Linked DNA regions of Homo sapiens. The protein of the gene in region 1 interacts with the protein of each later gene in a pairwise test. Each region holds a gene or a part of one and is shown in the gene's direction. Other genes may lie near its edges. The genes, in order: DOK3, PPIH, RIN3, SHC3, STAT3, ANKS1A and DOK5.

What was found.
Region 2: the proteins of DOK3 (region 1) and PPIH interact in binary tests that used the Homo sapiens proteins (3 or more experiments, as listed by UniProt).
Region 3: the proteins of DOK3 (region 1) and RIN3 interact in a two-hybrid assay, tested with the Homo sapiens proteins (one large-scale study listed by BioGRID and IntAct).
Region 4: the proteins of DOK3 (region 1) and SHC3 interact in binary tests that used the Homo sapiens proteins (3 or more experiments, as listed by UniProt).
Region 5: the proteins of DOK3 (region 1) and STAT3 interact in a two-hybrid assay, tested with the Homo sapiens proteins (one large-scale study listed by BioGRID and IntAct).
Region 6: the proteins of DOK3 (region 1) and ANKS1A interact in a two-hybrid assay, tested with the Homo sapiens proteins (2 studies listed by BioGRID and IntAct).
Region 7: the proteins of DOK3 (region 1) and DOK5 interact in a two-hybrid assay, tested with the Homo sapiens proteins (one large-scale study listed by BioGRID and IntAct).

What each region holds. Positions count from the first base shown.
Region 1 is NC_000005.10:177,500,744-177,504,593, reverse strand, and holds the end of DOK3 (docking protein 3), read left to right. Parts: coding exon 1-611; 3' UTR 612-1,201; coding exon of another isoform or gene 1,202-1,549; 3' UTR 1,550-2,690; downstream 2,691-3,850. UniProt on the Homo sapiens protein: DOK proteins are enzymatically inert adaptor or scaffolding proteins. They provide a docking platform for the assembly of multimolecular signaling complexes. DOK3 is a negative regulator of JNK signaling in B-cells through interaction with INPP5D/SHIP1.
Region 2 is NC_000001.11:42,664,377-42,669,014, forward strand, and holds part of PPIH (peptidyl-prolyl cis-trans isomerase H), read left to right. Parts: intron 1-486; coding exon 487-579; intron 580-1,603; coding exon 1,604-1,691; intron 1,692-2,170; coding exon 2,171-2,211; intron 2,212-2,974; coding exon 2,975-3,043; 3' UTR 3,044-3,064; intron 3,065-3,670; exon of another isoform or gene 3,671-3,775; intron 3,776-4,638. UniProt on the Homo sapiens protein: PPIase that catalyzes the cis-trans isomerization of proline imidic peptide bonds in oligopeptides and may therefore assist protein folding. Participates in pre-mRNA splicing.
Region 3 is NC_000014.9:92,516,781-92,520,280, forward strand, and holds part of RIN3 (ras and Rab interactor 3), read left to right. Parts: intron 1-3,500. UniProt on the Homo sapiens protein: Ras effector protein that functions as a guanine nucleotide exchange (GEF) for RAB5B and RAB31, by exchanging bound GDP for free GTP. Required for normal RAB31 function.
Region 4 is NC_000009.12:89,042,160-89,046,797, reverse strand, and holds part of SHC3 (SHC-transforming protein 3), read left to right. Parts: intron 1-964; coding exon 965-1,052; intron 1,053-4,613; coding exon 4,614-4,638. UniProt on the Homo sapiens protein: Signaling adapter that couples activated growth factor receptors to signaling pathway in neurons. Involved in the signal transduction pathways of neurotrophin-activated Trk receptors in cortical neurons.
Region 5 is NC_000017.11:42,329,443-42,334,080, reverse strand, and holds part of STAT3 (signal transducer and activator of transcription 3), read left to right. Parts: intron 1-31; coding exon 32-190; intron 191-315; coding exon 316-408; intron 409-2,549; coding exon 2,550-2,609; intron 2,610-4,289; coding exon of another isoform or gene 4,290-4,304; coding exon 4,305-4,334; intron 4,335-4,433; coding exon 4,434-4,527; intron 4,528-4,623; coding exon 4,624-4,638. UniProt on the Homo sapiens protein: Signal transducer and transcription activator that mediates cellular responses to interleukins, KITLG/SCF, LEP and other growth factors. Once activated, recruits coactivators, such as NCOA1 or MED1, to the promoter region of the target gene.
Region 6 is NC_000006.12:34,892,255-34,895,754, forward strand, and holds part of ANKS1A (ankyrin repeat and SAM domain-containing protein 1A), read left to right. Parts: intron 1-3,500. UniProt on the Homo sapiens protein: Regulator of different signaling pathways. Regulates EPHA8 receptor tyrosine kinase signaling to control cell migration and neurite retraction.
Region 7 is NC_000020.11:54,593,438-54,598,075, forward strand, and holds part of DOK5 (docking protein 5), read left to right. Parts: intron 1-4,638.

The sequences.
Region 1 (3,850 bases):
CCTGTGCCCCTGACCTGTGCAGGGCTGTGGCCGGGGCCATCGCCCGCCAGCGGGAGCGGCTGCCAGAGCTGACCAGGCCCCAGCCCTGCCCCCTGCCACGGGCCACCTCTCTGCCCTCCCTGGACACCCCCGGAGAGCTTCGGGAGATGCCACCAGGACCTGAGCCACCCACGTCCAGGAAAATGCACCTGGCCGAGCCCGGACCCCAGAGCCTGCCGCTACTGCTAGGCCCGGAGCCCAACGATCTGGCGTCCGGGCTCTACGCTTCAGTGTGCAAGCGTGCCAGTGGGCCCCCAGGCAATGAGCACCTCTATGAGAACCTGTGTGTGCTGGAGGCCAGCCCCACGCTGCACGGTGGGGAACCTGAGCCGCACGAGGGCCCCGGCAGCCGCAGCCCCACAACCAGTCCCATCTACCACAACGGCCAGGACTTGAGCTGGCCCGGCCCGGCCAACGACAGTACCCTGGAGGCCCAGTACCGGCGGCTGCTGGAGCTGGATCAGGTGGAGGGCACAGGCCGCCCTGACCCTCAGGCAGGTTTCAAGGCCAAGCTGGTGACCCTGCTGAGTCGTGAGCGGAGGAAGGGCCCAGCCCCTTGTGACCGGCCCTGAACGCCCAGCAGAGTGGTGGCCAGAGGGGAGAGGTGCTCCCCCTGGGACAGGAGGGTGGGCTGGTGGGCAAACATTGGGCCCATGCAGACACACGCCTGTGTCCACCCTGGCCTGCAGGAACAAGGCAGGCCGCCTGTGGAGGACCTCAGCCCTGCCCTGCCCTCCTCATGAATAGTGTGCAGACTCACAGATAATAAAGCTCAGAGCAGCTCCCGGCAGGGGCACTCACGGCACACGCCCCTGCCCACGTTCATTGCGGCCAACACAAGCACCCTGTGCCGGTTCCAGGGGCACAGGTGACCTGGGCCTTACCTGCCACCCGTGGGCTCAAACCCACTGCAGCAGACAGACGGGATGGAAATCATTAGGACTCCATGTTGCTCTGCACGGCCGAGTGACACGAAGAGGCAGGCGGAGGGAGCTGTGAGGCTTACTTGTCAGACTCAGGAAGGAGCAACATGAGGGCCCAACTGGAGACCCGGAGGCCCGAGCTGGGAGGAGGCAGTGGGGGCGGGGTGCAGGTGGAAGGGATTTCAGAGACACCCTCGTCCAAAACACTTGTTCCCTGCTGAAACTCCAACAATTTGCAGATACTTCTGGGAACCCCAGGCGTCAGTCTCCTCATCTGTAAAGGAGAGAGAACCGATGACGTATCAGGCATAATCCTTGATGAGAGTTTGCTGCGTGCCTACTCAGTGCCAGGCGCTGGGGGACACAGCCGTGTTCAGGACAGCCTTGGTCCTGTTCTCCGGGAGCCGACATTCCAGGGGGAGAGAAGTTTCCTGAAGACTTCCATGCTGCGTTCCCTCCTCTGCTCCTGCTCCTGGCGCCATCCTAGGAGCCAGCCACGCACGCAAGCGTCATGCCTCCAGGGCTCTGACTGCCCAGCCCCTCACCGCAACTCCACCTCAGCTGCACACACCCTTGGCACATCCTGAACCTCATTTTCATGACGGACACACAATTTTTGCTCTCTCCTGTCCAAGCCTCATCCTCTGGCCGCCACCTCCTTCCAGCTCACTTCCTTTAGTGCGGCCAGTACCGCCCCTGCCTAGGCATGTCGACCTGCAGGGACCCTTTTCTGGCTCTTCGAGGCCTCTGCCCACCATCCCCTCTTTGTTCTCCATAGTCCCTTCCCCCTGTTCTCTCTCGTTTCATCTTACTGGTCTGGCAAAGTCCCCGGCCTTGGGCGAGCCCAGACCTCCTCAGTGCCTGCACACAGCTGCCCACAGCCAGAGAAATCCATTTAAGCAGACTGCCTGCATCCTTCTTAACAGTGCAAGGCAGGCACTCCCTGCCACAAGAGACCCTGTTCCCTAGTAGGGCAGCTTTTCTCCTCCCCAGAACCTCCTGTCTATCCCCACCCAATGTCTCCTCACAGGCATATTGGGGAAACAGGTCGGGCTCTCCCACCGTATCTGCAAGTGTACTGGCATCCATCTGTCTTCTTCCTACCCCTACAGTAGAAACAGTGTCTGTCCCCAGCTGTGCTCTGATCCCGGCTCCTTTCACCTCAGAGCTTGGAAAATTGAGCTGTCCCCACTCTCTCCTGCGCCCATTCATCCTACCAGCAGCTTTTCCAGCCACACGCAAACATGCTCTGTAATTTCACATTTTAAACCTTCCCTTGACCTCACATTCCTCTTCGGCCACCTCTGTTTCTCTGTTCCTCTTCACAGCAAAAACTGTTCAAAAGAGTTGTTGATTACTTTCATTTCCACTTTCTCACCCCCATTCTCCCCTCAATTAACTCTCCTTCATCCCCATGATGCCATTATGTGGCTTTTATTAGAGTCACCAACCTTATTCTCCAAAACAAAAGCAACAAGGACTTTGACTTCTCAGCAGCACTCGGCTCTGGTTCTTGAAACACCCCCGTTACTTGCTATTCCTCCTACCTCATAACAATCTCCTTCCCAGCCTCTACTGCTGCCTTCTCTGAGTTCTTCCCAGGGTCCTAGGCTCAGATGTAGTGTAGCTCAACCCTGCTACACAAAGAATCTCCTGAAAGCCTGTAAAAATGTCCATGCATGTTCTGTGAGTGATCTACCAAGAAAATAAAAAATTTTAAAAATCAAATGCCCATGCCTGGGCCCACACGCAGGGGCTCTGATTTCATCAGTCTGGTAGGTGGGTTCTGGGCATCCACGCTCACTGGATTTCCGGATGATTGTAGTATGCAGCCTAGGCTGGGAACCACTGGCCTCAGCAAGCCAGTCATTCTCCAGGTGTCACAGACCCTCTAGGTGCTAATGACCCCGAAGGTCTGTCTTCAGTGCACACCTCCCCCTGAGCTCCAGATTTAGGAATCCCACTGCACACGAGACATCTGGATGTGGAAAAGACATCTCCAGATCCCATGGGTGAAAGGGGGTTGGGGGAATGGAGACTCTGGTGTTCTTCCAGGATGTGTGTGGACACAGAATGCAAAGCCTGGAGGGATGCTAGAGCCATAGGGAGGAAGATTTTGGCTCACTTATTCATGCAAGCACTTCCTGATGGGTAAGGTCTTAGAGCAAGCTGAGGCCAAGAGGCGGGCAGTCGAGGTGCTGCTGCAGGCACCCCCACTCCCTACAGTGGCAAGCCCAAGCCCAGCCCTTGGCAGCTCAAATCCCAGGACACGCTGAAGGTCACCCAGAGAGTCAGGGGCATGGCTAGAACCAGAACCCAGGACTCTGGGGACCCAGCATGGCATCCTTTCCTTCATTACAAATCTGAGCTGCTTTGTTTCCTAGGGATTTCTGTGATATTCCAAGGGGACTGTGGGAAAGAAAGTCCTTGGAAACCACCAGGACGCTAGAGGCCTGGCCTGGAGCCTCAGGAGTCTCGGCCACCAGAGGGCGCTGGGTCCTTGTCCAGGTCCAGTTGCTACGCAGGGGCTGCCTGTGCTGGGAGGCTCCCCAGGGGACACAGACCAGAGCCTTGCACCAGCCCAAGGAATGGGAGCCTGGGGTCCTCTCTGCTGGAGGACTGCCAGGACCCCCAGGCTGCCGCCTCTTCCTTTGCTCATTTGCTGTTTCACTTTGTCAATCCTTCCTTTCTTCGTGTGTTCATTCACATCCACTGTGTGCTGGCCCTGGGGAAATGTTAGATAAGACACATTAGCTGTGTGTCTTCATTGTCCTAACAAAGAACACACCCTGGAAAGAGCACCGCAGAGAGTCCCCATTCCCCCATCTCCCTCCACACATGGAATCTGGAGATGCCTTTTCCACATCCAGATGTCTCTGGTGCTGTGG
Region 2 (4,638 bases), on another chromosome or scaffold:
TAGGCATCCTTCCCTAGATCAATCAACTATGACCAGGAGGGTGGTATCATGTTGTACATACAGACTGCCAAGAGCTCACCCACCCTCTTAGATAGTTTAGGGGAATGGGGTGGTAGTCACTTAAGTGGGTACTTTTATGTGACTGAAGGCATGAGAGTCTTCAGGAATGGCAAGGATTGAGTATGTGATCACCTTGTTGCTGTTCCCTACTTTGTCTGCATCTTAATTGATCGTTCTAGAGGCCCAGCTGTGACCTCTTTTATCCAGTCTATAAAATGCTCCAGCCAGTCTTTGTGGGCTGTAGGTACCTTATATAAGGCTTGATCTGATTGCAGGGTGGGGTCAAATAGGTGCAGCTTCCAAGATGACCAACAAGAGTAAGAGTAGACTTTAAAGATGTCATGCTTTAGGTGCGACAGTGTTCTTCCTCCGGTTTCCAGGGACCCAACACTCCAAGTCACTAATACTTCCCTTCTCTCTGCTCAGGGAGATGGTACTGGAGTCGCCAGTATTTACCGGGGGCCATTTGCAGATGAAAATTTTAAACTTAGACACTCAGCTCCAGGCCTGCTTTCCATGGTAAGTGAGGTCCAATCAAGGTTTTGGGTTATAGCCAGCTGGTTCCTGGGCCCCTCTTGAGGCCCAGTGCTGTCTCTTGGGATGGAAGCAAATGCTTTCCTTCTCTTGCTTGGCCCAGGACTCACCTTTACCACCTCCTTTCTTAGTCTGGTTTGACTGAGAAAACCAGTAGGTATGCTGGCTCACGCCTGTAATCCCAGCACTTTGGGAGGCTGAGGCAGGTGGATAACCTGAGGTCAGCAGTTCGAGACCAGCCTGGCCAACATGGTGAAACCCCATCTCTACTAAAAATACAAAAAATTAGCCAGGTGTGGTGGTGGGTGCCTGTAATCCCATCTACTCGGGAGGCTGAGGCAGGAGAATCGCTTGAACCCAGGACGGGGAAGTTGCAGTGAGCTGAGATTGCCCCACTGCACTCCAGCCTGGGCAACAAGAGCGAAACTCCATCTTAAAACAAAGAAAAGAAAGAAAAGAAAACCAGTAGGTAAGGCCCACTAGCAGGCTAGCAGGCTGGGGAACTAAAATCTGAACCAGGATTTGTGTCTGGGCATTCAGCCCTACTGCTCAGAATGTAAACAGTTGTGCTTTCAAGACATATTCATAGCTGGGTGTGGTGGCTCACACCTGTAATCCCAGCACTTTGGGGAGGCCGAAGCAAGAGGATTGCTTGAGGTTGAGGTCAGGAGTTTGAACAATCTGGGCAACATAGTGAGACTTAGTCTCTACTTAAAAAAGAAAAAAAAAATTAGCCAGGTGTGGTGACACACACCTGTAGTCCCATCTACTAGGGAGGCTGAGGTGGGGAGGATTGCTTGAGCCCAGGAGTTTGAGGCTGCAGTGAGCCATATCCTGTTCATCTCTGTATCCTTGGATCCTAGCTTAGGCCCTGGCTCATAATAGGTGCTAAGTTAGATTTACTGAAAAAAACCATAGAGGAATCAGTGTTACAAGCTCTTTTGGAAATCTTGCCCTTCAGCTAACATGGCCGGGGAAACTTACTGCAGGTATATTTGGTTTCCATCAGGCGAACAGTGGTCCAAGTACAAATGGCTGTCAGTTCTTTATCACCTGCTCTAAGTGCGATTGGCTGGATGGGAAGCATGTGGTGTTTGGTAAGTCCTACTCCTGTCTCATGGTCCAGGCCCCATTCACCCTGGATGGAACCTCCAGAGGAGTTAGTTCTCAAACTCTTACCAAGAAAGCTCAACCTGTGTAACTGCTTAGGTGGTAATAGAGAAAACAGAAATGGTGGGGAGGTGGGGAACATGTGTGGCTAGAGAACTAGAGGGAAGGACAAAAGGACCATTTGATATAGTATGGAACCACTTAGGGAGAAAACCCAGTTGCTAGCACCAAAGAAATGCCATAGAGGCAGCATGATACGGTGAGACTTTGGAGTCACTCAGGTATAAGTTTGAGCCCTAACTCTACTTATTACCTATGACCTTGAGCAAGTCATTTCACCTCTACCGCATCTTAATTTCCTAAAGTTAGTATGAGGGTTTAATGAGAAAATAGCTAAGAATGGGCTTTGGAAGCTGGAAAATGCTATGTAAACAAGAATAAAGTCCAGCTCATGCTCTTCCTACAGGAAAAATCATCGATGGACTTCTAGTGATGAGAAAGATTGAGGTAAGTACTGCTTTGATTTTTCTGTTTCTCTGCCATTGTGGTCTGGTACTGTCTGACTAGCGTGCAGGAGCTAGAGAAGGGGGAATGAGCTCCAGTTTGTTAGGCTGTCTTCATTGCCCCAGGAAAAGGGAAGAGAACCACCTAAGTTAGCCTGTCTGGCCAACACTGAGGTTTGGCCTCTGATGATCCTGTTGCCTACTTGATAAAATTCTACTCCTCAGCATTGCGTTCAAGGTCCTTCATGATTAGTCCCTGTCTACCTCTCCATGGCCCCTTCTTCTGCCATTGCCTCTTCCATGTTCCAGTCACATCAGGCTACTAGCTCTTCTCTAAATCTGCCATGCATGTCCCTGCTGCTTGCTCTTTCCTGCCCCTGAGCCTTTGCTCACACAGTTTCCTCTAGCCGGAATGCTCTTCTTTCCTTCCCTCCTGATGGAATCCCATTCATCCTTCTAGGCACAGTTCAAATACCCCTCTTTTGTGAATCCTTCCCTGACCTCTTTAAGCCCCAATTTAGTTGCCTATCTAACCCTTATCCAATTCTCTCTTATAACTTTTTCTTATATAATCATAAGTTTGATATTTTCTAAGTGTTTTGCATTTTCTCTTTGATAGGTATTATATGCTTTACCTGTCTGCCAGGACATGGACTGTTTCTGAGTGCTGAGTCCTTAGCACAGGGCTGGCAGGCATCAGTAAAAGTTTGATAAGGGAACGAGGAAGTGCCTGAGTGGATGAATCTCCATTGTGCTTTTTTTCCTAGAATGTTCCCACAGGCCCCAACAATAAGCCCAAGCTACCTGTGGTGATCTCGCAGTGTGGGGAGATGTAGTCCAGACAAAGACTGAATCAGGTAAGTGTGTCTTTCTCCTATTAGGTTAGGAATCAGACCTCAGAGAAGGCAGCATGGTCTAGTGGAAAGAACTTTAGTCTTGAAGACATGAGATTGAGCCCAGTTCCTCCGTGTATGGCCTTGGAGTAGTCACTTTCCTTCTCTGAGCACATTTCCTCATCTGTCAAATGGAAATACTGTAATACCTATCTCTCAGAGTCACTGTAAAAATAAAAAGAGAAAGGGTTGTAGGAGCACTTTACTTTTCTATCACTTTGTAATGTACAAAGTATCAATGTGAAAACTACTCAGGCAGTTTGTAACAGCACTCTCAGACTACAGTTCCATTCAGTAGTCCCCCTAGAAAGACCTGGCTCCAGGCCTGAGTAACTCTCTGCTGGGACCAGGCCAGGCAGCCAGGAGACACACCTGTCATGCCTCTCATCAGAACTGATACTGCAATTCCAGGCCTCGACTTCATATTCGCTGGCCTCATAGGTGAATGCCTTGCATCTTCCAGCCTACATGGACTCATTTCTTACCCGTAATTACCACTGCCTGCTCTGCGCTGGGCAGCATGCTAGCTGCAGAGAGGGGGACAAAGAATTGAAAGATGTCTCCTTTCAGGAGCTCATGGAAAGTAAGACATTCCCAGAGGTGATCACTAGTAATATGAGTGACATTGCCAAGTATGAGAAGAGTACAAGGGAGAAATCCATCACTTCCAGCCAGGTGAGGGGTAGTGATGTTTTGTTTTTCTTTTTTTTTTATTTTCAAACCTGCAAAAAAGTTAGAAGATAATACCTTGAACACCAATATATCTTCACTTAGATTCACCAATGATTAACATTCTTGTTTTATTGCTTTGCCTTGACATTTGTTTTTTTCTTTCCCTTCTTGCCTCCTCACCCATTTCCATTGCCTCTCCTCCTCCCTCCTGCTCCTCTTCCCTCCCTCCATCCTTTCCTTCCTTTCTTCCCATCTTCCTTCCTTTACCCTTTCTTCTTCTCTTTCCCATTTGAAAGTTGCAGACTTCTTGACACTTTACCCCTAAGTATTTCAGCAAGGAACTCCTAAAAATAAGAACATCCTACGTAACCACAATATTATCTAATATATAGTACATTTTCAAACCTCCCCAATTGTCCCAAAAGTAACTTTTGTAGCTTAAAAAAAGGTGATCCAATCAAGGTTCCCATATTTCATTTCATTTGGTTTACACAAGTAACATAATACACTCTCATTGTGAAAACTTTCACACCAAACAGATAAAGTGAAAGCCCCTCTTGACAATACCCACCTGCAATTCCACTCCCCTTTCCAAAGGTCACTTCCTTATTAGTTTGATGTATGTCCATCAGGGCCTTTGCCTTGCCCATCTAATTTTGGGAGGTTTTCTTTTTCCCAAATGAAATCATACTATATTTTTCATGTTCTAAAAAATATGTCTTGAAAACTTTTCCTTCTTAGTTCATGTAAAACCACCTTGTATTAAAAAATGAAAACAGCCCGGCAGGAGGTGGCTCACTCCTGTAATCCCAGCACTTTGGGAGGCCAAGGAGGGCAGATAGCTTGAGCTCAGGAGTTCGAGACCA
Region 3 (3,500 bases), on another chromosome or scaffold:
GGTCCCTGATCTGTGATCTTCACTGAAGCTGCAAGTGTGAAAAGCTTGAAATGCCACAGGGCACCCGCATTTTAACCCAGGAGATACAGAAATCAAAACTGGAAACCTACCAGGAATTGATCTCAGCTGGAAGCAGAGAGAGGCATGATATTTGAAGGAGGACACCCAGACCCTTCACCATCCCCTTAGGCCTCCCTGGAGCTCCATTTTGGAGACAGGAGTCTGAGGTGGTCTGTGGTGCCTCCCAGTCCCTTGCCAGAGCAGAGACGGAAAGAATGGGTGACAGATGGCCACAAACTCTGTCTCTGTAACCCCCTGGAAGATTCCACCTGTCATGGCAAGACATGGCAAGCTGTGTCATCTAGGCAGTGATGAGTGAGCACCATTGGGTGGGCAGCTCGGAGGAGGGGAGTGCCTGAGCAAAGGTTCGGGAGGTGGGAAAGTGTGGTGGAGGGGCTTGTGGGGCAGGGAGTGCACCCTTCAAAACCCAGAGGTACATGACACACATTGCTTTACAAAGCGACTGTTATCAGATAACAGGGGTTGAGGAAACGGAAGACAAATTTTGTCTGGGGAGAGAATTACAGAAGAGGGGCAAAAGTATAAAGGGGGCTGCCCACAGAACCCCATCCTTGGGGCCTGGGTCACCTAGGGGATTGGGGGCATCTGTGTGTTCAGAAAGAGCCTTAACATGGGGTAAATGACACCCAAGGCCCCTTAACTTCCTGTTGGCCCCCAGCTATCTGATCCTATTAGGGAGTAACCTTTAGAAGAGAGTGGGGGGCCATGCGTTATCATCTTGTTATTGGGTAATTGATTGGTGCTGCTCTGATGGCCAACTCCAGAATGTCCTGTTGATACAACTATTGCCCCGAACCAGCATTTATTCTGAGAACCAGGAAGTCGAATTTCTCCTGCCCACCAGGAGTGTCTGAAACATGGATGTTTTCCCCCAAGATTGGAGCCAAAGATGAAAATCACAACTTTAATGACTTCCAAACTGGATCTCCCCTCCGTCCTACCCCACAGTGGGCCCTTCTGGTGGTTTGGTTGTTGCCAATCAAGCTAGAGGGACTCTCAGGCCAGGCAGGGAAAGTGGTGTGTCCCCCAACAGCTCCCTAATTGCCCTCAGGTGACATGCTGTCCTATTTAAAAGGTCCCTCAAGAAAGTCCTGCCCTCTGTACCCCAGCCCAGCCCTGCTGGAAGCCAGTGTACAGCTTCACATCTTCTGTCCTCTCCAACGTGCAGAGCTTGTCTGTGGTCTTGTACCTTTGCCCATGAGGTTCTTTCTGCCCTTTTTACAGGGCTCACCTCTTCCATGTAGCCTTCTATCCATGCCAGCTCACAGAGATTCCTCCTTTTTGAATATTCATAGCCTTTTTCACATGAACCGCTTGTTTGCCTAGCAATTTGAAAGAAGCCAAAACCTCTTTAATATCATGACTTCCTACTTCAGTTACAAACTTCCAAAGAAAGGGGTCAGGTCTTTTAGTTCCATATCCTTGTGTCCTACATGCACTTGGCACTCCATAAATGCTTGAGGCCAATGATACGCTGATTGAAGGCTGCACAGCCTTTTCTTTTGTGTCCCTGGAGCCCCTGAATTTCTGGAGGTGTTTACAAGGTGGCCTAGATCACAGGGCGGGGCTAAGTAGGGGGAGACCCAGGGCTTGGGGGGCTAGGAGCCCAACTCCATTCCGCAGCAGCTGGTGACCCCCACCACAAGGCTACCACACTCCTCTCCAAGTCTGGAAAGCAGAGGCCACCCAGGCAATTGAGTAGGGACCCTGCTTGGCCCCAACTCCCCTAATTTTATCCTCCCCAGCTGTGCTCCTGATACTTGTCAGGGAGAAAGGATGGGGGAAGGAGAGGCCAGCCCTGGATACTGTGTCTCAGCCGGAAGAATGGAGAATAGCTTGGTGTACAGACTTGGGGGAGCCCTGGGGCATCAGTGGGTCCCAAATGCGGGTCTCTGGACCACTGAGAAACTGGGAAAATAAGGGTGGCCTGTGTGTGTGTGTGTGTGTGTGTGTGTGTGTGTGTGTCAGCATCAGTGTCAGCCATGGCTGCCAACGTGTCTTTTCTTAGGCAGAACTGTCCTTTGCTGGTTTGGAAGAGGCGTGGGTGTTTGCATGTTGTAGGTCATCAGTAGGGCTAGAGAATCTGGGGTCCTGTCTCCTCTAGTATTTTAGGATTTTATTCTAGGAAGCTGCTCCCTTCCCTCTGGACCTCATTTTCCCATCTGAGAAAAGAGCTCCATGTTCTCAAGGTCCCTGCTCGCTCTGACAGTCGGCTCCCTGAGTTACCAGCTAGCAGGCAACGGAAGCTGGTGTCCTAGAGTAATAGCATTCAGGGGATCAAAGTGCCCATTGGAGCTGAAGTGGCCCATGGAACAGTCTAGAACATGCAGGCACTTTCACAAGAAACAAAGACCCATCCAGGAGACTTTTGGCTCATTACCCTGACCAAGCTACCTGGAAGGAAATGGTTTTTCTTTTTCTTTTTGTTATTGCTGTGGTTTTATTTTGAAAAACCTAGTCTTGAAAAAAGTACATTTGGTTTTGGGAGCCCACTTTGGGGCAGGACCCATGGCTCCTTGCCAAGTGGACAGTGAGCTGGGAAGGTTTCTCAGGCGGGGAGCCCTGGTGTGGCTGGAGTAGCCTCTCGAGGGTGGCTGGGCTGGTAAGGTGGAGCCTGCCTGGCCATCAGCTGTGGGAGCTGTGGAGGTGCTGAGGAGATCGCAGACAGCCGGGGATACGGGGCCTGGCTGTTTAGAGACCGTCTGTGAAGCCTGCCCCTGTCAGGGTTGGAGTCTGAGGGGCGGCCCTACCAACAGAGGATGAGACAGGTGTCCAGGCTGAGGGATGGCGCTCTCTGCCAGGCCTCGGTCTCCCTGCCCAGGGCTGCCCAGAGATAGCCAACGCGTCCCTGTGCAGGTGGGGGCGGCAGTGACGCTGTGTGCCTCCCTCCCCACGCACAGTGTAGTACAGCGAAGCCAGTCCGTCCCTCCTGCCAGCGTGGCCTTGATGGAGAAGAGAGGAGTGACGGGTACATGGGAGGCCTTCCCTCAGCCTGGCGTCCACAGGGCAGTGGGAAGGCATTACTATCTGTGTGGTGTCAGCGTTTATACAAGAGTCTGGAAGCCACCACTGTGTCCTCTCCTCTACTCTCCTGCCAGTAGGGCCTCTGTGCAGCCTTGGCATGTTTCCTCTCCACAGGGGTAGGGGTTGGAGGGACTGCCCCCAAAGCAGAAACAGTGCTGATAGTCAGAAGCTTTGAACATGGCTGCAGAACCCCCTGCCCCAATTTGACCTCAGTAATACCCAGGGGTGCCCCCACCTCAACCAGTACATGTTTAATGGAATGAACGAGCCTGCAATGAAATGTCGGTTCTCTTTTTAGCAGAAATGGCCTAGGCCGTGGTTGTGGTCAAGGCCTGTTGTCTGTAAGTGACGTGACGGCACACACTCAGGCCACATCCTATGGGGTAATGGTGCTT
Region 4 (4,638 bases), on another chromosome or scaffold:
TACTTTATTTCCTTTTGTTTTCTTTGGTTTTATTTCAGGCTGATGTTCTGTTTCATTTTTGACACAGTAAATCATGAGCTTTCTCTCACTGGATTTCATGAGGCATGCAGATGAAGAGAGGCTTTGGGTTAACATCATAAAGCATTGGCCAAATGCTTTGGAACTGTGTGGTGATTCCTGGGATATGAGTCTGGGGGTGTCCTCTGTACCCTCAGACATATTCCATCATACTGTGATCTCAGTGAGGGAAAGAGAGAATTTAAGATTTTAAAAAGGCTTGGGAGGCATTGGGTTCTCTGAAAAGGAGTGAATATAGACGCTTAAAATGATGAGAATTTTATGAGTTTTCTATTTTATTCATTCCCTTGTTTTATGTCCAACTCAAAATTCTAGTAAGGCAATTGCTTTCTAGAGTTATGATATTTCTGTTTTGTTATAGGAAATTTTTTAACGTTACTACCTTATGTGAATGATAATGACACCACTAAAAATGGCAAAATAACGTTGAGCTCAGGGATCTGACACTGAGAGGGAATTTCCTGATTTTTTGAAGGAAATTTCCTGGTTTACAGAGTGGACTTGACCAAGTGTGAACGATCATGGGCGTATGTGTTATGTGGGAAGTGTGTTCTGACACATAGATACTCTGTAATTGAAATTTATTTTAGGACATACATATGGAAGAGCTTGATTTACAGTCACACTTCGGGAGGGGTGGGGGGGGTAATGAAAACAAGCGGGGGGGCATGTGTAGTTTTGATGGAGATGCAGCCTTTTCCTCACACCCACACAAACTTATTTCCCAAATCTTAATGCCAACCATGAGGCATGAAGGGAAAATTGGGTGTAACAGAGGATGCGAACCACCTTAAGGATCAACTCGCCGACTGTCTTGTGGCTTTCAAAAGTGGTGAAATGAGAAGAAAATAATTTTTTCATTCTGTGTATTTACATGTGTCTATAGTTTGCAGGAAAAGAGCAGACTTATTACCAGGGAAGACACTTAGGAGACACTTTTGGCGAAGACTGGCAGCAAACACCTTTAAGGCAAGGTGAGAGGCAAGGTGAGATGGGTGAGAAACACAAAAGACACTTTTCAAAAGTAACATGCTCACCACTGGGTCGCCTATTTTCTGTGGACTGACAGAGTGACCCCTGGATATATGTGCTGTGTGTGTTGCTATAGAATCCTGACTAGACTATAGAAATAGAAGCAACGGTGTGGTCAGGCGCGGTGGCACACGCCTGTAATCCCAGCACTTTGGGAAGCTGAGGCGGGACAATCACCTGAGGTCAGAAGTTCGAGACCAGCCTAACATGGTGAAACCCCAACTCTACTAAATAAAAAAATTTGCCGGGTGTGGTGGCGGGTGCCTGTAATCCCAGCTACTCAGGAGGCTGAGGCAGGAGAATCACTTGATCCCAGGAGGTGGAGGTTGCAGTGAGCCAAGATGATGCCATTGCGCTCCAGCCTGGGCAACAACAGCAAAACCCCATCTCAAAAAAAAAAAAAAAAAAGCAACAGTGTTGCAGACATCTCCTGGCACCAATCAGATAGTGCCTCCCTGCAGCTCCAGGACCATTCACACCCCGTCTGCAGTCACTGCCTCATGCCCTTGAGACTGTACACCTCCATGCTGGGAGAGCTTCCATGCCCAGGGGTGCTGAGAAGTTGACATCTCAGGCATACTTCACCCCAGTTTCCTATGGGAACTGGTGAGGCAACTCTAAGGTGGAGGTTGAGCCCCCGTGACTCCTACAACAAATTGTTGCCTTTCCTTCCTTGTCTCGTTCTCCTTCCCTTTACTCAGGGTCAGCTTCAGGGGGGATGTGAAGCCCCCTACTCTAAGCTGGGGATTGAGGCAGAGGTGGCACCAGGGATATACGTCTCTCACAGGCCCTGGATACTCTCAGAGAACACTTCTGCATCTTACAATCATAATATGCACCTACATCACACATTAAAACTAATGTCGATATAACTGTCTATAAGTCAGATATCTGCAAATAATTCAAATATATTTAGATACAGCCATCATAATTTAGATACAACTATCTAAGAAGTAACTGCTAATTGCTCACATAAGTCTTTATTCTCTAGACAGTTATATATACACATACAAATATGTATGAATGTATTCATATCTCAATCTAATCCTTTAAGAATGTCTTTTAATTTTAACCTTTTTCCCTTCTCAAAAACATTTATAACTCTTTCACTAGCTCTGGGATCCTGGCTACTAAGTCTATAAGATCTGAAGGGGATGGATGCAACTGATGCTTCTATGTATCTAAATTTAAACATTATTGGTTTAATGTTGAGGCTTATTCCTTCATTATAGCTATTTATGCCAGGAAGCAAATGACAATACATTTTTAAAATGTCCTCTGTGTAAGAGAATTTCGTCTCGCCTGCCCCAGATGCAGGAAGACCCACAGTGCTGGCCCAGTCAATAAAACATAAGGCCTGGCAGAAGCCACCACATGTTCTGCCTCAGAATAGGCTGGAAATAGCAAATCAGAGTCATAACTTTGCCAGAGGGACATTTTCATTATGGGCTATTTATCCTTGTTCTACACACATTTAAAATGCATTTCCATAACATGTGTGTGCATAGACATATAATAACTGCTAAAGAATAAAGGAGACACATTATTTCCCTTAGATATTTACTTTATTGTAAAATATATCAGGTTTATTTTAAAATAGGCCTTGTTTTTGATATATTCAAGTTATTCCAGCCAGATCGAGAACAGATGATGTCGCAGAATGAACTCCTGGCCTGGAACTTGAGACTCAGAGCTCTCAATAAATTTCCAGCTCTTCTTTGAAAACAATAAATAGGCAGGGCATGGTGGCTCACGCCTGTAATTCCAGCACTTTGGGAAGCCGAGGCGGGTGGATCATCTGAGGTCAGGAGTTCGATGCCAGCCTGGCCAACATGGTGAAACCTCGTCTCTACTAAAAATACAAAAAATTAGCTGTGCATGGTGGTGGGCACCTGTAATCCTAGCTACTCGGGAGGCTGAGGCAGGAGAATTGCTTGAACCTGGGAGGTGGAGGTTGCAGTGAGCCGAGATCATGCCACTTGCATTCCAGCCTGGGTGACAGAATGAGACCCTGCCTCAAAAAAAAAAAAAAAAATAAATAAATATCTTTTCTCACATAACAAATTAGAATGTCACTTATTAATTTGCTGGCAGATACTGTCCCTAATGGAAGTGAACTCCAGGTATCACGATGGCACGTGTCCTCCTGCCCCGGCTCAGCACCTGTTGTCATCTATGGTGGGAAAGGGCAGTCAGGAAGATTATGCATTTGGGCTCTTGATCTTCTCCTTTTAAAATTTTTTAATGAAATTCTTTTCTAAAGGCTGATTCGTTTGCAATGTACACAAAGGTGTAAACTGCAAATAGCTGTCACTAAGCAAGGATGCGTAATCTGACTAGACTCTTCAATGTAGAAAGCATGTTGAGAAATAGGAGAGTAGAAACACAGTCCATGATGTTGCAGGTGGTGCTCCCCAGCGAGGGAATGTTAGCACGACACTTCATTCTCACACCTACAGCCTGGGAGACAGTGGTGTGCTGGCAAATGTCCAGCCACAGGCTCTTGGGAACGCTTTTTAAAAAGCCCTGAACCAACTCCTGCCAGCTGGATTGAGCTGGCTTCAACACACCACCGCCCATAGGGTATGAAAGACACCCTCTTTCCAGAAATGTGAATACCACAGGGTGTTCTTGCGAACATGTTTACGTAAGAAGATTGGAGACAGGGCGCACACACAAAAAGACTCCGAGAAGGATCTGAACAGGCGTTCTCCGGCAACTAGGTCTGGGTGTCACTTTCACCCAGGGTCTGGGTGACAGAACAGCCCGGGCCCAGCCTCAGCACACCCACTGGCTAGCTGTGAAGTCCTGTCAAGGCACTAGGTCTTTCACACTAGGTCTCGGTGACAGAACAGCCTTGGCCTAGCCTCAGCACACCCATTGGCTAGCTGTGAAGTCACATCGAGGCAGCATCACTGCCTCAGCAGAGGGGGCTCTTCACTTGCACACCCACCCTGGGCTTCCTTCACAGACCCAGGGGCAGTAACTGCAGCCCTATTTTATAAGGAAGGAGTCTCTCTCAGTTCCTTAGGAGGTACAGAGCTTCTATTGTATTGCTTGAATGAAGTTAATTTATAAAGCATTTGCTTATATTTAAAAAGAAAACAAGAGCAATTAATATAAGGCTTGTGGTCCTTCTGCTCAGTTATTTGATCTTGGAGCATTTGTCAAGGAGAGGAGGTCAGGCATGTTCTGCCTGCCAGGCTCCTGCGGTCTTGGGGCAGCAAGGGCCAAAATTTTTGCTAAGGCCATCACAGTGGAGCCATCAAGGTGTCCACCCTGACATTGGCTGGCAGACCCCATGCTGATATGAAGGACTGGAAAACATCCTAGCTGGGTCACAGCAGTGTGTGGTGACAAGCTCAGAAGAGGAGAATATCACCCATAGGAATCCGAAGGAGGAGGTTTCCCATTTGCAGGCAGAAGAGCTTCTTTGTGAAAGGCTGGGTGGCTTGAATAGTGTCACCATCGTAAAAGAAAAGGGGCTCACTTTCTTGTTGCAGGGTCCTCGGACATCTACAGCACGCC
Region 5 (4,638 bases), on another chromosome or scaffold:
GTAATTAGCATCTTTCTTAATTTATTGGCAGGATAACGTCATTAGCAGAATCTCAACTTCAGACCCGTCAACAAATTAAGAAACTGGAGGAGTTGCAGCAAAAAGTTTCCTACAAAGGGGACCCCATTGTACAGCACCGGCCGATGCTGGAGGAGAGAATCGTGGAGCTGTTTAGAAACTTAATGAAAAGGTAATTTAGCATCCTTGTCCCTTTCCCTCATCTAAAAAATACCTAAAGACTCACGTGGTAGAGTGAGAGGCGGGCTGACTTCTGGTCATGGCCGTGGCGCGTGAGCCCATCTTCTCTTTCCTCAGTGCCTTTGTGGTGGAGCGGCAGCCCTGCATGCCCATGCATCCTGACCGGCCCCTCGTCATCAAGACCGGCGTCCAGTTCACTACTAAAGTCAGGTAGGCCATGCCACTTCCATTTCCAGTAGAGATTTTACTGAGGGACACTGTTAGGGTGAGGGTAGAGTTGGTGGCCAGGGTCATTCTTTCCAGGTGTGGTGTCACAGGCAGTACACTGTTGCGGGGTTGAAATTTGTTGCCATACTATCTGCTTGCTCTCTGATTCTGATGTCAAAAGCAAAAGAGCAGTCATCTTTTTGAAGGTACCTGGGCATATTCCTATGATTGTAGACCTGGAGTCTCAGGCCACAGCTTCTCCTTCTGCCCAAGGGACAAAATAATGTCATCTATTTTCTGTTCTTTGAGGCTACTCTTCCCTGTGGATTTTAAGGGAAAGAGTAAGGCTTAGTGATGGGGAAGCTGAGAGGCCCCAGGGCAGGTGGGTGGTGGGCCTGTAGGGTGAGGTGTTACTTTCACACTCAAGTCAGAACAGGTGTGCTGGGGTTTTGACCTTCTGCAGCAAAATTTCCCTCCTCAGAAACTTAGTATGGTGTTCGGTTTCAGGATTAATAGAACAAAATGCCAGCTGCACAGCATGTGTTCCTGTAATATTTTTCATTATATGGCTTTGATTATCCTTTTGTGAATCTCTCACAACTTTAAGTTGTTAGTTCTTAGATGTTTTCTCAGTACCTTTGGCTTGAAGGAGTGATACTCATCTTTTGTTTTTGTTTGAGACAGGGTCTCACTCTCACCCAGGCTGGTGTGCAGTGGCATGATCTCAGCTCACTGCAACCTCCATCTCCCAGGTTCAAGTGATTCTTGTGCCTCAGCCTCCTGAGTAACTGGGAATAGAGGTGCGTGCCACCACACCCGGCTAATTTTTTTTTTTTTGAGACAGAGTCTCGCTCTTTCGGCCAGGCCAGAGTGCGTGTTGCAATCTCAACTCACTGCAACCTCCACCTCCCAGGTTCAAGCGATTCTCCTGCCTTAGCCTCCCTGAGTAGCTGGACCGGCACACTCCACCATGCCCGGCTAATTTTTGTATTTTTAGTAGAGACAGGGTTTCTCCATGTTGGCCAGGCTGGTCTCAAAACTCCTGACCTCAGTAATCCACCCACCCCGGCCTCCAAAAGTGCTGGGATTACAGATGTGAGCCACCACGCTCGGCCTTTTTTTTTTTTTTTTTTTTTTTGAGATGGAGTCTTTCTCTATCACCCAGGCTAGAGTGCTGAGGTGTGATCTCGGATCACTGCAGCCTCTGCCTCCTGGGTTCAAGTGATTCTCCTGCCTCAGCCTCCCAAGTAGCTGGGATTACAGGTACCTGCCACCATGCCCGGCTGATTTTTGTATTTTTAGTAGAGACGGGGTTTCACCATCTTGGCCAGGCTGGTCTCGAACTCCTGACCTTGTGATCCACCTGCCTTGGCCTCCCAAAGTGCTGGGATTACAGGTGTGAGTCACCGCACCCAGCCCTATTTTAATTTTTTTAAAGAGAGAGATAGGGGCCAGGCACGGTGGCTCTCGCCTGTAATCCCAGCACTTTGGGAGGCCAAGGTGGGTGGATCACCTGAGGTCGGGAGTTCGAGACCATCCTGACCAACATGGAGAAACTCTGTCTCTACTAAAAATACAAAATTAGCTGAGCGTGGTGGCGCGCGCCTGTAATCCCAGCTACTTGAGAGGCTGAGGCAGGAGAATCACTTGAACCCAGGAGGCGGAGGTTGCGGTGAACGGAGATTGCGCCATTGCACTCCAGCCTGGGTAACGAGAGAAACTGTCTCAAAAAAAAAAAAAGAGAAAGAGAGATAGGATCTCGCTCTGTCATCTAGGCTAGAGTGCAGTGGCATGATCATAGATCACTGTAGCCTTGAACTCCTGGGCACAAGTGATCCTCTTGCCTCAGCCTCCCGAGTAACTGCGACTACAGGTACATGCTACCACACCCCGCTAATTTTTAAATTTTTTATAGATGTGGGCTCTCACTTTGTTGCCCAGACTGTTATGGAACTCCTGGGCTCAAGGGATCCTCCCAGCTTGGCCTCCCACAGTGCTGAGATTATAGATGTGAGCCTGTAATTATAGACAGCTTGGCCTATTTACCTGTTGGAAATGAAGAATTATGAATTTTACATTTCTTCAAGAAAAGGTTATGGGAGAGTTACTGACTTTTTTTCCTTGGATTTTTTCTTTTTAAATAGGTTGCTGGTCAAATTCCCTGAGTTGAATTATCAGCTTAAAATTAAAGTGTGCATTGACAAGTAAGTACTCCTATCTTAGCTCTGTTTTTCAAATGAGGAATAGAAAAATGAGAACTTTGACAGACATCATTTGAACTAGAGACTCTGTCTTTATTCAGAGATCTTCATTTTGTGGACAAAAGTTTTCAAAAGCCTTGGGGTGCATTGTCATTTACGTGTCTGAACAAAGCCACAAAGCTGGGGGTACAGATTTGATTTGTGGTTGCTATTGTGACAACCAGTCCCTCTTTTCCTTGTTTAGTTTTTTACTTGTACATGTCATTCATGCATATTATATATAAGACTGAGATCATGTGTTAATTAACGACTGGGATACGTTCTGCAAAATGTATCATTAGGCAATTTTGTTGTGCAAATGTTGTAGAGTATATAGTCCTTACACAAACCTGGGTGGCAGAACCTACTGCACACCTACGCTATGTGGCAGAGCCTACTGGTCGTAGGCTGTAAACCTGTACAGTATGTTACTGTGCTGAATACCGTAGGCAATTGTAACACATCTCAATGAAGTAGGAATTTTTCAGCTCCATGATAATCTTATGGGACCACCATCATATATGCATTTTGTTGTTGACCGAAACGTCGTTATATATTCTTTCCATACATAGCATGTGGAAAGAATAGATCTCTTTTTTTTAATTGTTCCACACTTTACCATATAATGGAATACGCAAAATTTCACAATACCTTTCAGGATGTAAAATACATATACCCTTTGACGACATTAGAAAAGAGAAAATGTGGGCCGGGCGCGGTGGCTCATGCCTGTAATCCCAGCACTTTGGGAGGCCGAGGCGGGCGGATCACGAGGTCAGGAGATCGAGACCATCCTGGGTAACACGGTGAAACCCCGTCTCTACTAAAAATACAAAAAAACTAGCTGGGCGTGGTGGCGGGCACCTGTAGTCCCAGCTACTCAGGAGGCTGAGGCAGGAGAATGGCATGAACCTGGGAGGTGGAGTTTGCAGTGAGCCAAGATCACACCACTGCACTCCAGCCTGGGCGACAGAGACTCCATCTCAAAAAAAAAAAAAAAGAAAAGAAAAGAGAAAATGTGGCTGGGCGCGGTGGCTCACGCCTGTAATCTCAGCACTTTGGGAGGCTGAGGTGGGCAGATCACCTGAGGTCGAGAGTTCGAAACCAGCCCGACCAACATGGAGAAACCTTGTCTCTACTAAAAATACAAAATTAGCCAGGTGTGTTGGCGCATGCCCGTAATCCCAGCTACACGGGAGGCTGAGGCAGGAGAATCACTTGAACTCAGGAGGTGGAGGTTGTGGTGAGCCGAGATCACACCATTGCACTCCAGCCTGGGCAACAAGAGCGAAACTATCTCAAAAAAAAAAAAAGAAAAAAGAAAAGATAAAATGCATTCTTATTTTTAGTTGATGTAATTATGTGGAAATTTCATGAGGATGCACTGGAAAATAATGAAATAAGGGAGTTGACGAAGGTGGTAGGTTTAATAAGTACATATGCAATATGAAACATAGGTTCCCCTTCCTATGGGGAGGCAACCAACTGTGCCTGCTACGCAGAGGTGTTATGTTGCGCTGATCAACTGTAACTGAATAGTTTAAAGAAATGCCCAGGAGCACAGAGGTTTTTTCATGACAGTAAATAACAGGTGGTCAAAGTAGGCTTTTTGAAGAAACACAGAGCCTATTTTATTAACAACAGTCTGTGTTCTTACAGAGACTCTGGGGACGTTGCAGCTCTCAGAGGGTAAGTTCAGCCTAGAGGCTTCCTTTTGTTCCGTTTAACCTAACTTCATCCTCCGGCTACTTGGTCACCTACATAGTTGATTGTTCCCCTGTGATTCAGATCCCGGAAATTTAACATTCTGGGCACAAACACAAAAGTGATGAACATGGAAGAATCCAACAACGGCAGCCTCTCTGCAGAATTCAAACACTTGGTATGTGGGAGGAGCTCCCCTTCACAAAGGGCCTCTGGCTGCCGGAGAGGGCTAGGGAGAGCCTCACAGGACACCTGCCTTTTTCTTTTCTTACAGACCCTGAGGGAGCAG
Region 6 (3,500 bases), on another chromosome or scaffold:
CTCTGGTTAAAGCTAGTAAAAGATTTCTGAGCAAATGAGACCATGCCTAGGTCAGTATGTCCTCCCTTTTTAGATGTGGACATAGTGAAGGGTAGGTTACCTCTGCTCCCAACCCTCTCTCCCCTAAAGACCCTGGATTATTTAATGAGAGCTGTGGAATCATAGCTTCAGATTTGGCCTTTGTATTAGCGGCCATATTCTACCCCTATTTGTACTGCCAACTGTAACTTGCCTGAAGTAAAGCTGGCAGAAATAGGAGCTTACAGTTGCAGTGGAATAATTGTTCCAGACCACACATGTGTTTGTGTATTCACCTGTTTGTGTTCCCCCATCCCGTATTCCACAAAGGCTTTGTGTTTATTCTTAAGCTAAAAAATGCCCTCTTCTCTTACCCATCCCTTTTCCTCTACACAGCTTGGGCTTAGGTTTTAACTTCTTAAAGCCCTTCCTGATGACCCTAATACACACAGATCTCTCAAGCTTCCATGTCTTTGGAGCACGTCATCTGTAGTGTACTTTGCTTGCCTAGCTTTCACAGTTGATCGCTTTGGCCTGTCAGTATAATGTTTACATATAGCAACCCTCACCGATTGATGCTATACCTGAGAATCAGAAAGTCAGCAAAGAAGACTTCTACTAGAAAAACATGTTGTTACAAACTTTGTGTTCTTCTAGCCTTCCTTATTTACTGGATATTTATTCAGGAACAGTATAGCATTATACTGTCCACTTTTTCTTAGCATTAAGCATGTTATAGCATTAAGACCACTTGTTTTTGTGTCAGACTTCCTGGATTCACATTCCACTGCCACCACTGACTAGCTGCTTGACATTATTCAAGTTAACCACTTTGATACTCAATTTCTGCATCTGTAAAATGGGGATAATACTATCTGCCTTATAGGTATCATCTTAGATAATGTGTGTACGGGACTTACCATAATTCCTGGCATATTCTAAGTCCTCAGTCTTAGTCATCCTCAGTTCAGCACATACGGTTTTGCTGTGTTGCACCTGTTCTGTGCAAAGTACCATGCCAGACACATTATTTATTTTTATTTTTGTAGAGATCGTGTCCCACTATGTTGCCCAGGCTAGTCTCAAACTCCTGGGCTCAAACGATCTTCCTGCCTCAGCCTCCCAAAGTGCTGGGATTATAGGTGTGAGCCACAGTGCCCTGCCTGACACATTTTAAATGGTGTTTTTTCATGCTTGGGGATCTGTTTTCCAAGCATGGCAGACTAGAAAGAGTAAATAAGGGAGAGGAATCATTCATATACCCAATGTTTACCCATGATATACTTTGTGCCAGGCCAAGTGATTGCTAGATGCACTGCAAAATATGTCTGAGACCTGGGACATTGTACGTGGTCTGTCAGAATTAGCCCCTCTCTTCATACATGTTCTGTTCCCTTACAGAGTTTATAGTAGTATGATACGTCTGTGTAACAGGCCAACAAAAAGGAGACAGAGAAAGCACACAAATTTAGCATAATTTATCCTACCTCCCGGCTGTTTGAAGCTATTAACATAGGTGTATATAGCCCTATATACCTATGTAAGCCCCAAGCATCAGTTTACTGTATCTTTGTGCTATGATTTATGTTTATTATGACTGTTAGCCATCAAATAAAGATTAAATTATGTTCAATATAGCTTGTTAGTGAAAGAAGAAAAAAAATATAGTTTTCTATCCAAAATGGTTTAAATATAATTTTTTTACTTAAAAGGATAAGCAATAGATTATCTAGAAAGCACAGTTATCCAGAATGTCTAGGCTTACAGAGGCTCTGGATTGCATGGATTATACTTTATATAATACTAACTCATTTTCTGATTGTTTAATGGATGCATGCCTTCGGTCTATACCTTGGGAGCTTGGGATAGGCATTCTATCAAACTTCTTAACTTACAGTATTTTTTAGTTCTGGGCACGTAGCGGGCACTCAGATTCTCATGTAACAAGACAGTTTGCTATGTTTAGAGTTATAGTGAAATACTGATTTCCAAGAAAGAAACTCCTGTATAAGAATATTGTAAGATTTGGTTAAAAGTAAATTCTATCAACTAAAAGGCCAAAAAGATCTGAGAAAAGGAAATGTTAAAACCAATCATGGCCAGGCACAGTGGCTCACCTCTGTAATACCAACACTTTGGGAGGCTGAGGCAGCTGGATCACTTGAGCCCAGGAGTTTGAAACCAGCCTGGGCAACATGCTGAAATCCCATCTCTACGAAAAATACAAACATTAGCCAGGCGTGATGGTGTGCACCTGTAGTCCCAGCTACTCGGGAGGCTGATGTGGGAGGATTGCTTGAGTCTGGGAGGTTGAGGCTGCAGTGAGCCAAGATTGTTCCACTGCATTTCAGCCTGGGTGACAGAGCTAGACCACGTCCTCACACCACCACCCCCCAAAAAAAGAAGAAAAAAGAAAACCAGCCACAATAGCTTCAAACTGTAAATTGAGTTATGAACTAAATACTGATGTATATGAATGGAAAAGTAAAGTGAAATGTACTTCTTAGGGTTCAGAAGCACAGAGAAACTAAACCGAAGATCACAGTTGAGGAGATTATGTTATGGTTTAGGAATATTTTATGCTTAATTTCTCAAGCATGAGAAGGGTGAATAAGAAAAGAGGAAGCCAAGGAGACTTGCTGGAGAATCTGAAAATTTATAGATAGTAGCAATGAATGTGGCTTTAAACTAATTTTTATGCTGCCATTTCATTGGGGGAATAAAAGAAAAAGAAAACTATTCCAAAACAGATATGAATTTCCCAAGATGTGAAAATGTTCTGAAATAAGGAATGAAGCATGAAAAATTTTGAAAAATGGACCTCATTTGGAGGATAATAACAGATTCTCCCAAATGTCAGAAAATATGGCAAGTAATTCATTGTTGTAAAGAAAGCTTCCTAATATTTATTTAAGGACTTTGGTTTTTTTTTTTTTTTAATTAAAAAAAAAAATTTAAGAGACAGGAGTCTTGCTAATGTTGTCCAGGCTGACCTTAAACTCCTGGGCTCAATTGATCCTCCTGCCTCATCCTCCTGAGCTATTGGGACTGCAGGCACATGCCACCATGCCAGGCTAGACTTCTTCCTCTTGTTAGTGTTATTATTTTTTAAACAGTGATTAGCATAACCATTCTATTGAAATGGTCCTTTATTCATTCCCAGAATGGATCTGAACCTTGGAGATTATAATGGCGTGACAGCCTTTTCTCATGCTGACCTTTTTACTTTTGCCCACTACTGTGCCAGATTTCTTTTGAAAGTGCCTATTTTGAGCAAAATGATTTTAACATCTTAAGGAAGAGGGCAACACTGACCATGTAAGGATTGTAGAATGGAAGGGCCTGGAAACAGATCTTGTGGATTTGAATTTGTCTGATCTAAGTTCCTGCTCTTCTAAGAGAATGCAAAAACAAGATAAAATGCAACTATCCACTAGCATAGCAGTTTTCTGGGTCTTCCACTAAACTATCTTAATTAATTA
Region 7 (4,638 bases), on another chromosome or scaffold:
TCTTTCAAAGACTATAAAAGTTATCACAAAAAATAAACCTTTAATGTTGAGAGCAATGTTCTTATTTTGTGAGAATTACTTATTTATTCTTCTTATAAGAAAATCCCAGGCCAGGACGGTGGCTTATGCCTGTAATCCAAGCACTTCGGGAGGCCAACACAGGAGGATTGCTTGAGCCCAGGAATTTGAGAGCAGGCTGGGAAACACAGGGAGACCCCATCTCTCCAAAATGTTTCTGTTATAAAAACACATGCACATGTATGTTCATCAAAGCACTATTCACAATAACAAAGACATGGAATCAACCCAAATGCTCATCGATGATAGACTGGATAAAGAAAATGTAGTACATATATACCATGGAACACTATGCAGCCATAAAAAAGAATGAATCACGTCCTTTGCAGGGACATGGATGGAGCTGGAGGCCTAATTCCTTAGCAAACCAATATAGGAACAGAAAACTAAATACTGCATGTTCTCACTTATAAGTGGGAGTTAAATCATGAGAACATATGGATACATAGAAGGGAACAACACATATGGGGCCTATCTGAGGGTGGAGGATGGGGAAGGGAGAGGATCAGGAAAAATAAATAATGGATACTAAGCTTAATACCTGCATGATGAAACAATCTGTACAATAAGTCACCACGACACAAATTTACCTATGTAACAAACCTGTACATCCTGCACAGGTACCCATGAACTTAAAACAAAAGTTTTTTAAAAAAGAAAATAAGAATACCTATTCATCATTGGGTATATTGTACAAAAAATAAAAGCAAATTAAATGAAAAAAAAATTAGCCAGGCATAGTGGCACACACCTGTGGTCTCAGCTACTCCAGAGACTGAGGTGGGAGGATCACTTGAGCCTGGGAGGTCGAGGCTACAGTGAGCTATGATCTTGCCAATACACTCCAGCCTGGGGCGACAGAGTGGACCTTGTCTCAAAAGAAAACAACAATGACAAAAGAAAATCCCTATAGAAAATGAATAATTTTTTTTGGTAAGGTTGGTATATTTTTCCCTTTGGGTCTCAGAAATTATTTATGCATTAACGATAACCAGTGAAATCTAAGTATTGAAAATGTTTTATAAATAGACTTTTCTATGACTGTACCTCTCATATCATCTCCATTCATATTTCATATTGATGTGTAAGAGAATTCTGCATTGATCAAGACTCTTTGGATCTGTTTTGGGCAGCACTTATTCAATTATTAATATTTTAAAATCTTTTTTTATTTACCATTTACAGGAAATAGTAGTAGAAAAAAAGTATAGCTTTTTATGGTAATGTTTGAGGATCAAAACCTTAGTAAACTTTATTAGTATCTCATATCTATTTTAAACTTGAAAACATGTTATCTTATTAATTTTCCAGGTATAAAATGAACACTGTACATATCCTGCAAACGTTTAATTTATTCATATTGAAATCTAACGGAACTGCTAAGGATTTAGGTGATTACTTAAAAGACCTCGATATTTCTCCTAAGTGCTGTAGGAAACCATAGATACTTGGAGGCTGGTATGTTTGAGTCTCTGTGTGTGTATGAGATGTGTGTATATGGGGTGTGTGTGTATGTGATGTAATTGTGTTAATAGTTTATAAAGGGCTGGGCGTGGTGGCTCATGCCTGTAATCCCAGCACTTTGGGAGGCCAAGGCGGGCAGATCACGAGGTCAGGAGATCGAGACCATCCTGGCTAACACGGTGAAACCCCATCTCTACTAAAAATACAAAAAATTAGCCGGGCGTGGTAGTGGGCACCTGTGGTCCCAGCTACTCGGGAGGCTGAGGCAGGAGAATGCGTGAACCCGGGAGGCGGAGCTTGCAGTGAGCTGAGATCCTGCCACTGCACTCCAGCCTGGGTGACACAGCGAGACTCCATTTAAAAAAAAAAAGTTTATAAAGGTCACTTTGATCACATTGTGCACGGTAGGATAGAGGAGATAGGTATGGATGTGGGAGATATTGAACCAGTTCAAGTGAAACAATGGTGGATGAAAAGATATATGGGTGACAAAGTTGAGAACTATTTCAATGGTCTTTACCAACATGCTGACTTGGAAGATATAAGTGTTTTATCCCATGACTTTGATGACCCCTTTATGGTCCATCCATTTGCTTATTTCATCCAAGAACTCCACTGGTTAGATGATTATAATATTCACAACCCAGGCCACTCAATGTTATATCTCCAATATCGTAGGGACATAGAATATTTATTGATTTTGAATAGCATTATTTCTTATGCATTGGTCATGTTTTGCAGGGCTGGTGCAAACTTGAGATTGAATGGTCAGAAAGGAAAGTGTGGGAGTTGTATGCTTAGCATCTTACTTCTCAAACAGCTTGGTGTAGTATACAAAGTACTGATTCAGAATTTAGAGAGACCCTGAGTAATCTCTATTTTTTGCTAGCTGCTAACCTTGGACAAAGTTCTTAACTTTCCTTGTAAGTTGATCAGAGTAATAACTTTCTTGCAGGTTTGTTGTAGGTAAAGGCAGAAATGCATGTAGATGACCTGGAAGGATGCTGGGCTTCTCCTAAATAGTATCTTTGGTATTCTATTATGATTACTTTTGGAGCAGAACATAAGCTTGCAGGATAGTGTTAAATGCAAGGTAAAATTACTATTTTATATTTTGCTTGAAACTCAAATAAAGATAAATTTTTATACTTACCATCAAGATGCTCAGGATAATAAGATCATTCGTGTTCCACACCAAGCGTGAAGGTTTCATGTCTGCCTTGCTTTATTAGTGAAGATAAGTTTTTTCCTTGGCTATTTTTGGATGTGTTGAAACAAAGCAGTTTTATATCAACCAGTATAATTTTCCCCTTCTCTCACATCGAGAAGTGAGCAGGAGTTGTCTGTCTAAGCAAGTAGTTTTCACATATCCAACATGCATCTGCAAAAACTTAACAATATCCTCTAGAACACAGGGAATCTTTCTTGGACAAAGTTCTGCTCATGTTCAGCCTCTCTCTTAGAACTAGAACTGAGTGTTATTCCTGCTCAGTGGCTCCGTTTCACCCCACCAAAGCTGACAGTGGGGCATGTGTAACAGACTGAACTGGAAGTTGGAGGAAATGAAGTAAAATTACAGTTCTATCACATACTGGCTGTGGGAACGTGGATATGTCACTTAACTCACCGAGCTTTTTTTCATTGCCACCTGTAAATTGGGAACACATATATTACTTATCTCAAAAGATTGCTATGAAGATTAAATAAAGGCACATGTAAAGACACCTGGAATAGTGCCTGAATGTAGTAGGCAGTTGTATCCACCCAAACTAGTACTGAAAAGAAACTCATTGACTTCCATAAACTCAAAGTCTGAGGAGTAAAGATGGCTTCAGGCTTGGCTTGGCTCAGTGTCCAAATGATAATCCCAGGTTTTATGTGACAGTTCTGTTTCTTCTAAAATAGCTTCATTCTAGCTCCATATGGTGACTTTCAGAAGCTTTGAGATCTCCCCACACTATCTCAGTAAAAGAGAGATATATTACTACTCTCTGCTGTCATTATATATACTATGTGTCAAGCACTGCACTTTACACAAAGCTCACAGGGTACAAATGCAATGAGGTTGGTTCACTGAAGGCAGGAAGAGGGTACTGTTGCTATCAGAAGAGGAGTGGAGGTGAGGCTTTTAAAAACTAACAAAATATGTACAATATAGCATTTAATAATTGCTCAAAACAAATAAGGTCAAGAGGCTATTTGACTGTAATTGACATTTGCACTCACAATAGTGCCGATTTCCAGAGCAGTGGTTCTTAGCTAGAGGTGATTTTGCTCCTAAGGGACATTTGATAATGTCTGGAGACATTTTTGATTGTCACAACCTGGGCAGGGGGTGTTACTGGCATCTAGTGCATAAAAGGGCCAGAGATGCTGCTACAGGCACAGAATAGTCCTTGACAACAAAGGATTATCAGGTCTAATCATGTGGTTGAGAAACCCTACTCTAGCAGGTGTATGAGCCATTGAAAATCATCACTACCATTTACTGAGCCCTTACTATATGAAAGCCTCTGTACTAAGAGGCTCATTACCTCATTTGAGCTACTCATTATCATACAAACTAGGGGATACAGTTATTTCCCTCTTAAAATGAAACCTGGGCAATGGCAAGAGGTCCGAAGACACAAAGCTGATAAATTCAGGACTCACGCTCAGATCTTTTACTTCCAAACTCCATAGATTTTTAAGAAGGCTCACCTTCTACTGGAGGTTAGCCTAGTTCTTAGTTAACTTCTGCAGAGCTAAGGGAGAGAAAGCATCTTTTACTTCCAAACTCCATAGATTTCTAAGAAGGCTCACCTTCTACTGGAGGTTAGCCTGGTTCTTAGTTAACTTCTGCAGAGCTAAGGGAGAGAAAGCATGCTTACATAACCAAAGCTTGCTAAATCCATTTTGGATGATCTTGTGAGCATATTATCCTTTCCCACTGAAGCTGCCTCAATGTGAGGAAGGCATCTGTCAATAAGCCACAGACTTGCAAAGATGCTGGTGATGTAAATATGCCTCCTGAGCTGCGCACTGGGGTATAAATGTTCTTAGTTTGACTTGACTTTTTGGAACCCCCTGTATGTTCTCTTAGTTTGGAGTGTAGGC